Linked DNA regions of Homo sapiens: region 2 is linked to region 1. Evidence: fine-mapped expression QTL. Tissue or cell type: tibial artery. Region 1 holds a variant in brackets; the other region holds the start of a gene. All regions are shown on one strand. Distances are from middle to middle.

What was found. PIP is the estimated chance that this variant, and not a neighbour inherited with it, causes the effect.
Region 2: it holds the start of TMEM98, and the variant in region 1 is the best candidate, but not a certain one, in a credible set for the expression of TMEM98 in tibial artery (GTEx, PIP 0.58).

Annotation. Positions count from the first base shown.
Region 1 is chr17:32,949,447-32,954,827 of GRCh38, reverse strand. No RefSeq gene overlaps it. Among named protein-coding and RNA genes, the nearest start is that of TMEM98, 24 kb to the right of the region's middle. The variant G/C (reference allele first, on the strand shown) is at 2,938.
Region 2 is chr17:32,925,022-32,930,402 of GRCh38, reverse strand. TMEM98 (transmembrane protein 98) reads right to left here and starts at 2,250. Exons shown (of 8, transcript NM_015544.3): 1 at 2,166-2,250.

The DNA.
Region 1 (5,381 bases):
TTCTGGTTAGTTATTCACAGCAGGCAGCCAGCCAGCTGGGCGGCACTCAGCCCCACCTTCTTGGTGAGGTTGTTCCTTGAACTTTATCCCCACGACGGAAAAAAATTTTTTTTCTCTGTATACTTAAGAGAAAGACAGCTACACAGAGTCACACCCACAGGTACAGCTAGCCAGGGCGCTGCAGCCAGGAGGAGGGCTGACGGGCAGGGCTTTCCTCCCCAATGCCAACCTCTCCCAAAGAGAGATGTATCTCTTCTGTAGGGGCCACGTGCAGGTCTGTCTTTCAGCAAACTGGGCAAATCGTGACATGGAGGCAAGCACATGAAAATGGAATTTGAGAGACCTGGTCTCTCATCCCAAATCAGCTCCTAAGCCACTCTGTGACTGTGAGCAAGTGCTTTGACCTCTCTGCGCCTTGAGTTGGTGGATGTAATAACACCAGCCTCATAAGGTCATTCATCTCTTGTGAAGATTAAATAAAATAATGCATGTAAGGTGTTTCCAACAGCTCCCAACATGCAGTAGGGACCCAGTCACCCAAGGCCCCTGTCTCTGCAGGCTCCTCTCAGCTATTTTAACATTCTACCACACTGTGCTAGTGCGTCCCATAATTAGATGACTTTTTTTTTTTTTGGCCCTAGGCATACCCCTTATATTTCTGAACTTAATGAGTTTACCTTTGAACTTTTTCACACTGTTTATGCATTTATGACTTTTTATTATAGCTTTTACAGGATGACAGATGTTAGGGGCTCTGAGTAGCACACTCACCTCCTCTCCTCCATGCAATGAACTGGGAATTCCTTGGTGTGCATTCTTTCCCAGTTCTTCCCTTACTGGCTGCATGAGCTTGGAGCGTGAGTTTCCCTTCCTAGGCCTGTTTCCTCCTTGCTAAGTCTCATTTTCCTAACTAAAAACCAGTAATAATAGTTGCTACCCCTCCAGATCTCCCAGGCTGTTTTAAGGAATCCACAGACTCCAGTAAGATGAGTGTGGCATGTGTTCTCCTGAGGAGAGGAGATGGGGAATGAGCAAAGTCCTACCAGGTCAGGACAGAGTGATCAGTCCAACAACAACACCAACTAAGAGAAAGGATGTCCCAGAGGCCAGGAAGGGTACAGGGAGAGGGGCATGAAGAGAAGTTGATTGATGGGTACAAATATAGACTTAGATGGAAAAAATAAGATCTAGTATTCGATACATCAGCAGTGTGACTATAGTTAACATTAATCAATTGTATATTTCCAAATAGCTAGAAGAGAATAATTTGAATGTTCCTCGCTTAAAGGAAGATAAATATTTAAGGTGTTAAAGCAAATTAAATATGGCCTGAGAAGGACTCCATACTTCTATATATGAGTGATTGTGGACAAAATGTAACCCAGCTTAATAGGCAGGCAAGATTGAAAACCTAACTTAGGAGTATGCACCTGTAACAATAGCTGAGTCTTGGCCAATCCCAGTGGCCACACTTCATCTACTCATGGACTAAGTTAAACTACTCATGGACTAAGTTAAACACCAACTGTAACCAATCCAGCTGTTTCTATACCTCACTTCTTATTTCTGTACCTCACTTCCCTTTTTATAAATTTGTTCTGACCACAAGGCACCCCTGGAGTCTCTCTGAATATGCTGTGATTCTGGGGGTTGCCTGATTCATGAATCATTCATTGTTTGATTAAACTCCTTTAAATTTATTTCCACTGAAGTTTTTAACAAAGGTATTGGATGTCCCAATTACTGTGATTTGACTACATGAATGTACCAAATTATCACCTGTACCCCAAAAGTATGTATATCTAATATACATATCAATAAAAATAAATTTTTAAAAGAAGAGAAAAGGAGTCTTATTCACCCTTCATAAGACAAATGGGGCTGGGTCATCTGGAAAGACAATAAGAGAAAAGCCTCTCTCAGGGGATGTATTAGTCTGTTCTCATGCTGCTAATAAAGACATACCCAAGACTGTGTAATTTATAAAAAAAAAAAAAAAGAGGTTTAATGGACTCACAGCTCCACATGGCTGGGGAGGCCTCACAATCATGGTGGAAGAGCAAAGGACATCTTTTATGGCAGCAGACAAGAGAGAATGAGAGAGCCAAGTGAAAAGGGAAACCCCTTATAAAATCATCAGATCTCGTGAGACTTACTCACCATCATGAGAACAGTATGGGGGAAACTGCCCCCATGATTCAATTGTCTTTCACTGGGTCCTTCCCACAACACATGGGAATTATGGGAGCTACAATTCAAGATGACATTTGGGTGGGGACAGAGCCAAGCCATATCAGGGGAGGACAAAGCCAAAAGTTTCAAAGAGTAAAATTAATAATCCCATTTGCAGAAGTAAATAACAAAGAGGAGAAGGAGAAATGGTAAAGTGCTGAATTGAAGCAGAAATCACTTTTAAAAAACCAAAGAGCCAAAGTGAGAAGTCTGTATAAACAGAATCCCAGTAATTAGGAGAGACAAACGGAGTGGCAGGCAGGAAGGCAATGCCATGCATAGACCTTCGCCAGAAATGCAAGGAGGTCAGAGGGCTGCCACAGGGTTGAGAGAGAATGCACAGGGAAAGGTGAGAAATAAGAAAGTAAGGACATCAGAACAGTGTAATCGTTCTGTTTCAGGAGCAAGGGAAGGCTCAGAGAAAGTGGGAGGCAGGCTTTAGAGGAAGACTACAGCATCATTCCAGAATGGGCCAAGCTATAAACTTAAGAAAGCACTCCCCAGGGAGTCAGAGTCTGGCAATCAAGGTCTCTATATGGCCTCAAGACCAAGAAAACCTCAGATTGCTGTCCCAGGAAAAGGAGAGGCCTAGCCAAGGCAATAATAATACATTTAGAAAGGACAGTGGGCAGCTATGGCAAGCTGGAGCCCTCCAGCTGCAGCTCCAGCTCAAGTCCCACCACAAGCACTGGCAGGAGCAGGTGA[G/C]GCTGGGGGTGCCATGCAGGATGGCAGTGGACCACTCAGCCACCATAAGGGAAAACACAGCAGGGATGACAGAGCGAGCTGTGGGAGAACCATCACATTCAGATCCATGATAAGCTTCAGACCAGACAATGAGCCAGGGACCAATGTTGGCAGGAACACTGGAGGTAAAGAAGATGCTAAACAACTGGGGAAGACAAGGGAAGGGACTGGAGAGGAGCAGGCACATGGGAGCTGAGGCTCAGACACCTGCCTTCAAAGATCACATGGAGACAGACCAAGTGAAGTATCTCCCCCAAGCAGGGATGGGCCAGCAGGGCAAACAAGGAAAGTCATCTGAGTACTTGCTGCTGGAAGAAGACACACTGAGCATCATCAGCATGTGCATTTGTGTGTTTGTGTACTTTGAAGTGTACATAGCTACATTTTTTTTTTGAGACAGCATCTTGCTCTGTGGCCCAGTCTGGAGTGCAGTGGGGCAATCTCAGCTCACTGAAACCTCCGCCTCCCAGGCTCAAGCAATTCTCCTGCCTCAGCCTCCCAAGTAGCTGGGACTACAGGCACACATCACTGTGCCTGGCTAATTTTTGTATTTTTAATAGAGACAGGGTTTCATCATGTTGGCCAGGCTGGTCTCAAACTCCTGGCCACAAGCAATCCACCCACCTCAGCCTCCCAAAGTGCTAGGATTACAGGTGTGAGCCACTGCACCCGGCCCATGGCTACAATGTTTTTGAGCATCTACTGAATGTAAAGCAGTGGGTGAGGCACATTACATACATTAGCTCCGTCAATTCACACATACACACAGACACACACACACACGATTTTGTGTAAGGCCACACAGTAAGTGGCAGAGCTGGGATTTGAATGTGTTTCTTGCATCCCAGGCCTATGCTCATAATCGCTCTTCTATTCCTTAAGATAAAAGGTAATACCATTTGACCCAGCCATCCCATTACTGGGTATATACCCAAAGGATTATAAATCATGCTGCTAATAAAGACACATGCACACGTATGTTTATTGCGGCACTATTCACAATAGCAAAGACTTGGAACCAACCCAAATGTCCATCAACGATAGACTGGATAAAGAAAATGTGACACATGTACACCATGGAATACCATGCAGCCATAAAAAAGGGTGAGTTCATGTCCTTTGTAGGGACATGGATGAAGCTGGAAACCATCATTCTCAGCAAACTATTGCAAGGACAAAAAACCAAACACCGCATGTTCTCACTCATAGGTGGGAATTGAACCATGAGAACACCTGGACACAGGAAGGGGAACATCACACACCGGGGCCTGTCGTGGGGTGGGGGGAGGGGGGAGGGATAGCATTAGGAGATATACCTAATGTAAATGACGAGTTAATGGGTGCAGCACACCAACATGGCACGTGTACACATATGTAACAAACGTGCACGTTGTGCACATGTACCCTAGAACTTAAAGTATAATAATAAAAAAATTTAAAAATTAAAAAATAAATAAATAAAATAAAAATAATAATAAACAATGGGAAGCTTTTGGAGATTTAAAAAAATAAATAAATTTTCACTTAAACTTGAAGAAAAAAATTCCCACTATGTGTCAGTCTAGGTATAATTACTAGGTATTGGAAATACAGTATTCAGCAAAAGCATATAGGGTTCAAACTTTCATAGATTTGACACAGAAAGACACTATTCAGACAATCAGGCTAATCAATATAACAAACTGATACACGTTCTGAGAAAGAAGAAATGAATCATAGTCCTAGGTGCAGGATAATCAGATGTGCACACAGCAGCTTTCCAAATGTGACCCAATCAGCCAGTCTGGGAATTCCAGGTTGACACGTTCTTATTCCTCCCTCTTCAGACAAAGGCCACAGAAATTAGATCAAGCACCTTGAATCAAGCACCACTGTTTAGCTTTCCAATGTCCTCACTCCAGAACTACAGGGAGAGGGTATACTAACATGCCTCAGTTGGCCTCCAGGGTGAAGCAAAGTTGTGGCTAAGTGAACACTTCCTCCACTCTACTAGGAACCCAGCGGTCCAGTGAGGTGCTGTAGCCCACACCTGAAGGTTCCCAAGAGCTGATTATGCACATCACGTCCCATGTTCAATGGCATCATGTTGGTACCCTGAAATCAGACATGCAGGGAGAATTTAAACTCCAAAAACAATAAGCACTACAAATCAAACAATAAACACTGCATCTGGGGGAAAAAAAAGATAAAAGGTAACTCTAGGAGATACTTTCATTTCTCCTATTTGATTGGAAAATGGGAGGAAAGGTGGGCTCTGCAAAAAGTTCTTCTGGGATGAGACGGGGCACTGAGTCATCCACTCTGGGTAACCTGCCCGGCTTTCTCACTTCCTAAGCTGGATCCCGGGTTTCTCTTCTGTTCTCCTCCTGCCCTCTGTGCTTACTTCTGCCTTCACATTGTATTAA
Region 2 (5,381 bases), 24 kb after region 1:
ATATACTAGTGCACAGAATTTTTTTAGTATGAACACATCGATAGGCACAAACACACATAAAATGTAACTTGATAACAGTAGCTGCCTCTGGAGAGAGGAACTGAAGAACGGGGTCTTTCACACCTATTTTAAACTCATAAGCCAGAAGAACAAGGGCATCTCACAGAAGTACATATTCACTGTTATTTCATTGTAGGCCTCCTGCTTGTCTCTCTTTGTGCAAGCATTCTCCCCTCTCTGGGCTTTAATTTCCCCACGTGAAAAAAAGACACTCTGACTTAGGAGTCCTTAGAATACCAGGAGGGTGCTTTTCCTCTATTTGCACTTAATTCTATCCTCCATGTCTCGGAGGGTCCAAACGCTCTCGGTCACCATTCACTAAGTATTTATTGATCATCTACTATGCATCATGCACTGGAGATTGGAGATAGATAGGACAGAGACCCTGATCTTAAGGAGTTGGTGGGAGAGGCAGACAGGTGACAAACCACTTCAACTCCATGTGCCTGTGCTTCCTGCAGAAGAACACAGAAAAGAGAGTAACTGTGCTTGCATGACACTTTCTGGGAACTGACACTTTCACAGGAGTGGTGAGGCTAGAGCTGGGTTTTGAAGGATGAGCAGGAGTTTGCCAGGTAGACAAGGTTGGGACATGCCTGGCTTAAAGTGCCAAGGAAGCCTTTCTCAAAGGGCTCACAGAGCTGCTCTCCCATCTCGAGCTCACTGGACCACAAGAAGGAGAAGGCTGGCATCTGCCTCTTCTGTGTGTGTCGCTGATTTTGTGAGAGGTAGGTGGGGGAGGGGGGTAATTCTCAGGGTCCGCCTCTGTTTCTCTACGTGTGTGTTTCTCTTTACTGTCCTTTTAACCACCTCCTTTTGGCCTTTGTGTTTTCTGCCTCCTCTTATGTCTGCCTTTATCTCTGTTTCTCTTTCCAGGCATCTTTCCCTCTGCTGCTCCCGTCTCCCGCTTCTCAGTGTCTCTCCTTCCCCTCCCCCGGTCCCCAGGCCTCCAAGACCACCCACTTGGTTTCCTCTCTCTTCCTGTGCGTTCTGAGTGTTTCTCTGATCGTGTTTCTCTGGGTGTGTGTGAGCTGAGTGTGCTTCTAAGTGTGTTTCTCCGTGTGTGTTTGTGTTAGTGTGCGTGAGCTGTTTTTCTGTTTCTGTGTGTGTGAGCTGTTTCTCAGAGTGTGCTTCTGAGTGTGTGAGCTGTGTTTCTCAGAGTGTGTTTCTGAGTGTTAGCTATGTTTCTGAGTGTTTTCTGAATGTGCTTGTGTGAGCTGTTTATCTTGAGTGTGCTTGAGTGGGTGTGAGCTGATTGTGTTTCTCAGAGTATGTTTCTGAGTGTGTGTGAGCTGAATGTTTCTCCGAGTGTGCTTGTGTGTGTGAGCTGAGTGTGCTTCTGAGCGAGTGTGAACTGTTTCTCGGAGTGTGTTTCTGAGTGTGTGTGAACTGAATGTTTGAGTGTGCTTCTGTGTGTGAGCTGAGTGTTTATCTTGTGTGCCTCTGAGTGCGTGTGTTTCTGAGTGTGTGTGAACTGAATGTTTCTGAGTGTGCTTCTGTGTGTGAGCTGAGTGTTTATCTTGTGTGCTTCTGAGTGCGTGTGTTTCTGAGTGTGTGTGAACTGAATGTTTCTTAGTGTGCTTGTGTGTGTGACCTGAGTGTTTATCTTAAGTGTGCTTCTCAGTGCGTGTGAGCTGAGTGTGTTTCTCGGAGCGTGTGTTCGTGGTCCTTCTCTGCAGTCTGCGTGGCGTTTCTTTGTGTTTTTCTTTCTCTATTCTTCCCTGCGTACTGAAGAGTAAGTTTTCCTGTTTTTCTCCGTCTCTTTCTCTCTCCCTTACTTTCCCCCTTCCCCTCCGGTTCCAGAACCACAAGGACAGAACAGACCCAAGACCCTACCCGCTTCCCCGTGCTCGTCCACCCAGGACGCCCACTCTGTCCCCGGGAGGGAGGGACCCCCAGCCCGCCCGGGACGCGCCGCACGGGCCCCGGAGCGCTCCGGGGCGCGGCTCCTACTCCTTTCCCCAACTTCGGGCGCGCGGCCCCGCGGCAAGAACAAAGCTGCGGCACCCGCCTCCCCTCTCCCCGGCAGCCGGGCCAGGCCCCGCGCCCCCGCGTCCCCTTCCCCGACTCGCCGCGGCCCGCCCGGCCCGGCGGGGCTCACCCACCTCAGGCTGTGGCTCCCGGGCGCATCCCGCGACTGCCCCGCCGATGGCAAAGTCCGGGCGCGGGCGCGGGCCTGCAGCGGAGCATGCCGGGAAGCGCCGCGGCCCTAGGAATCCAGCCTCGCGCCCCCGCGCCCCGGCCCCCGGCCCCCGGCCCGCGCCAAATCCCCGCCGCCAGGCGCCGCCGTCACCGCCAGGCCCCCCGGCGGCCGGGGCAGCTGGGAGGCGGGCCCTGGCGACCCAACACCCCTTCCTCGCGCCCCCGCGGTGGCCCGTCCGGGCGGCAGACGGAGAGGGGAGCGGAGGGTCCCTGCCTGCGCCCCGCCCCGGGCTGGCGGTCCCAGGCGGCGAGCGCGGATGGGTACCGCAGGGGGGCTGGCGGCGGAGCCAGTGTGCTCCGCCACGGACTGTCCCATTGAAACCCTGCCTCTGCCACTCACTAGCTATGGACAACTTAGTTCAGCCTTTGTGCCTCGGTCTGTAAAACGGGGCTGCTGCTTGTCAGCATCCTCAGAGTTGGTATTAGGAATGATGGGATGCAGGATGCATCGGACTGCCTGGCCCAGGGTAAAGAGTGAATCGAGGGTCGCTCTTATTTACAGCCTGACCCACGGGTCAGTGAGAAGCAGGCCCACCCCTGGCGACTGCCTAGCCAGGGGCAAGAGTACAAATGCAGAGCCCTTGCTAGTAGTCTTGCTGCTTCTATTCCCACACGACTCCATCCCATACATACTGAAGGGGGTCTACTGGTTCAGGCAAACACACACCCCCTACCCTGCCATCCTTCATTCTAACGATACTCAGGCCAGGCAGGGCAGGCTGCCCTGGGTGGATGGAAGTCAGACCTTGGAAGCAGGCTCAGGGCTGTTTACACAGGGATTTCCGGAGTCCAGGGTACCAGGAGCATGATCTAGAAGGGAACATACGCTCCAGCTGGAGTGGGCCAACTAAAGCACGGGGTTCAGGGCAGGATCCCAGTGGTCCAGGTCTGAGGTCAGTATCGGTGACAGTTAACAAAGGATACAGATTGGGTCCTAGGCCGCTTGACACAGGGTCTGCAAACTGGTACCCCCAAGGCCACATCCAGCCCACAGAGGTGGTTTTTTTGGTTCATACTTTTGTTGTTTTATTTTAATTTTTTTGAGACAGAGTCTCAGTCAGTCGCCCAGGCTGGAGTGCTGTGGCACAGTCTTGGCTGTTTACGGGTGGAGGGTGTCCAGGTTCTTGCCTTTATTTATTTATTTATTTATTTATTTATTTATTTTTTGAAACAGAGTCTGGCTCTGTTGCCCAGGCTGGAGTGCAATGGCACGATCTCAGCTCACTGCAACCTCTGCCTCCTGGGTTCAAGCGATTCTCCTGCCTCAGCCCCCCAAGTAGCTGGGATTACAGGTGTGCGCCACCACGTCCCACTAATTTTTTTTGTTATTTTTAGTAGAGACGGGGTTTCGCCACGTTGGCCGGGCTGGTCTGGAACTCCTGACCTCAGGTGATCCACCCACCTCAGCTTCCCAAAGTGCTGGGATTATAGGCATGAGCCACCGCACCCGGCCTGTTCTTGTCATTTTGAACAAAGAATTAGACAAAAGGCACAAGCAAAGCAAGTAAAGAAAGAATGAAGCAACAAAAGCAGAGATTTATTGAAAACAAAAGTGCATTCCACAAGGTGGGAGCAGGCCCCTGCATATGGGCTCAAGAGCCCCTGCTGTAGAATCTTCTGGGGTCCAAATACCTCCTAGAGGTTTCCCATTGGCCACTTGGCGTTCACCCCATGTAAATGAAGTGGTGCCACAATTAGTCTGATTGGTTGTGGAAAGCAACCAATCAGAGGCTGAAGTGAAGTTACAAAGGTTGCACTCCTATGCAAAAGAAGATTTGGCCCGCAATCAGTCTGATCGGTTACTTTCCACAACCAATCAGAGGCTAAAGTGAAGTTACAAAGTTACACTCCTATGCAAAAGAATATTTGGCCGCAATCAGTCTGACTGGTTGCTTTCCACAACCAATCAGAGGCTGAAGTGAAGTTACAAAGTTACACTTCTATGCAAACGCAGGATTGGTTGCGGAAAGGCAATCAGAGGTACTTTCAAAAGATTTTCCATCTGCCAAGCAGAAAGTGGGGAGTGGGGGTTGCAAAGGGAGTAGTCTCTGGTCCGTTTGTTACTTAGGTGCGGAAAGTTGGGGTTTTCCTTTTGATTTAGTTCTAGGAAGTCAGGTGAACCCTTAGGTTTCCTGCCTCCAGACCCTATTCTCCTGCCTCATCTCTCTCCTGAGAGACATGACCCCCATAAATCTTTATGGGATGCAGAGGAACTGTAACTGCTTTATGCCAACTTGGGGCGTAGTTCCTACCTACTGGAGATCATGGAACTCTTGCCCTACTCTGTCTAGTGGAGACAGTGTGGCATCCTGATGGCCAGGGGTGGTGTCTTCACTTGGAACTGACTGGAAACTTTGTCACATGATCATCTGAAGCTTGATGGTCTCTATGTGAAAGGAAATGAATATGGTTAAAAGATTTAACAGGAACTTCAGGGGGTGGATACTTATGCTGTCAGGAATGTTCATTATGGAGATGAATTGAAACATTCTGCTAATTACTACAAAGGAAGTGATTCCATAAGTTTGGAAGAAGGCAATAAAAAAATGGCCACTATTATCCAGAGCACTTCCACGTTTTATTAAGTACCTTATCTCCTGGCCTGATTTGGGGTTGCTGGGATTGGCCAAGACTCAGCTATTTTTACAGGCACATATTCCTAAGTTAGGTTACCGTTCATCCACAGAGACTCCAATATAGAAATACGGAGTCCTTCTCAGGCTATATTTAATTTGCTTTAACAATTTCCCCCTTTTGGTCATTTTCTCAATTTTGAGAGATTGACCAAACCTTTAGTCATTCATGTCACTACCACCATCATAAATGAACTTATTTGGTCTTGAAACCCACTGGGAAACAGTAAAACAACAGTGAGTTTTGTACAGTGGGAACAAGGACTGAGTAGAGGGTACCTCCTTATGGTGGAACATCCTGTTTGCAGGAGAAAAACAAAACCTGGTCTGTTTTAGGATCTATGTGTTTTGGTTTGTTTGGTTTGCTGGGGCCTAGCACATGATGTCAGTCCAAAACACTGGCCTCTCATAATTTTGTTAAAAAAATTCTCCCTTTTTGGTCAGGTTCTCACTTGGGTGAGAGTGTGACCAAAATTTAAGGCCTTA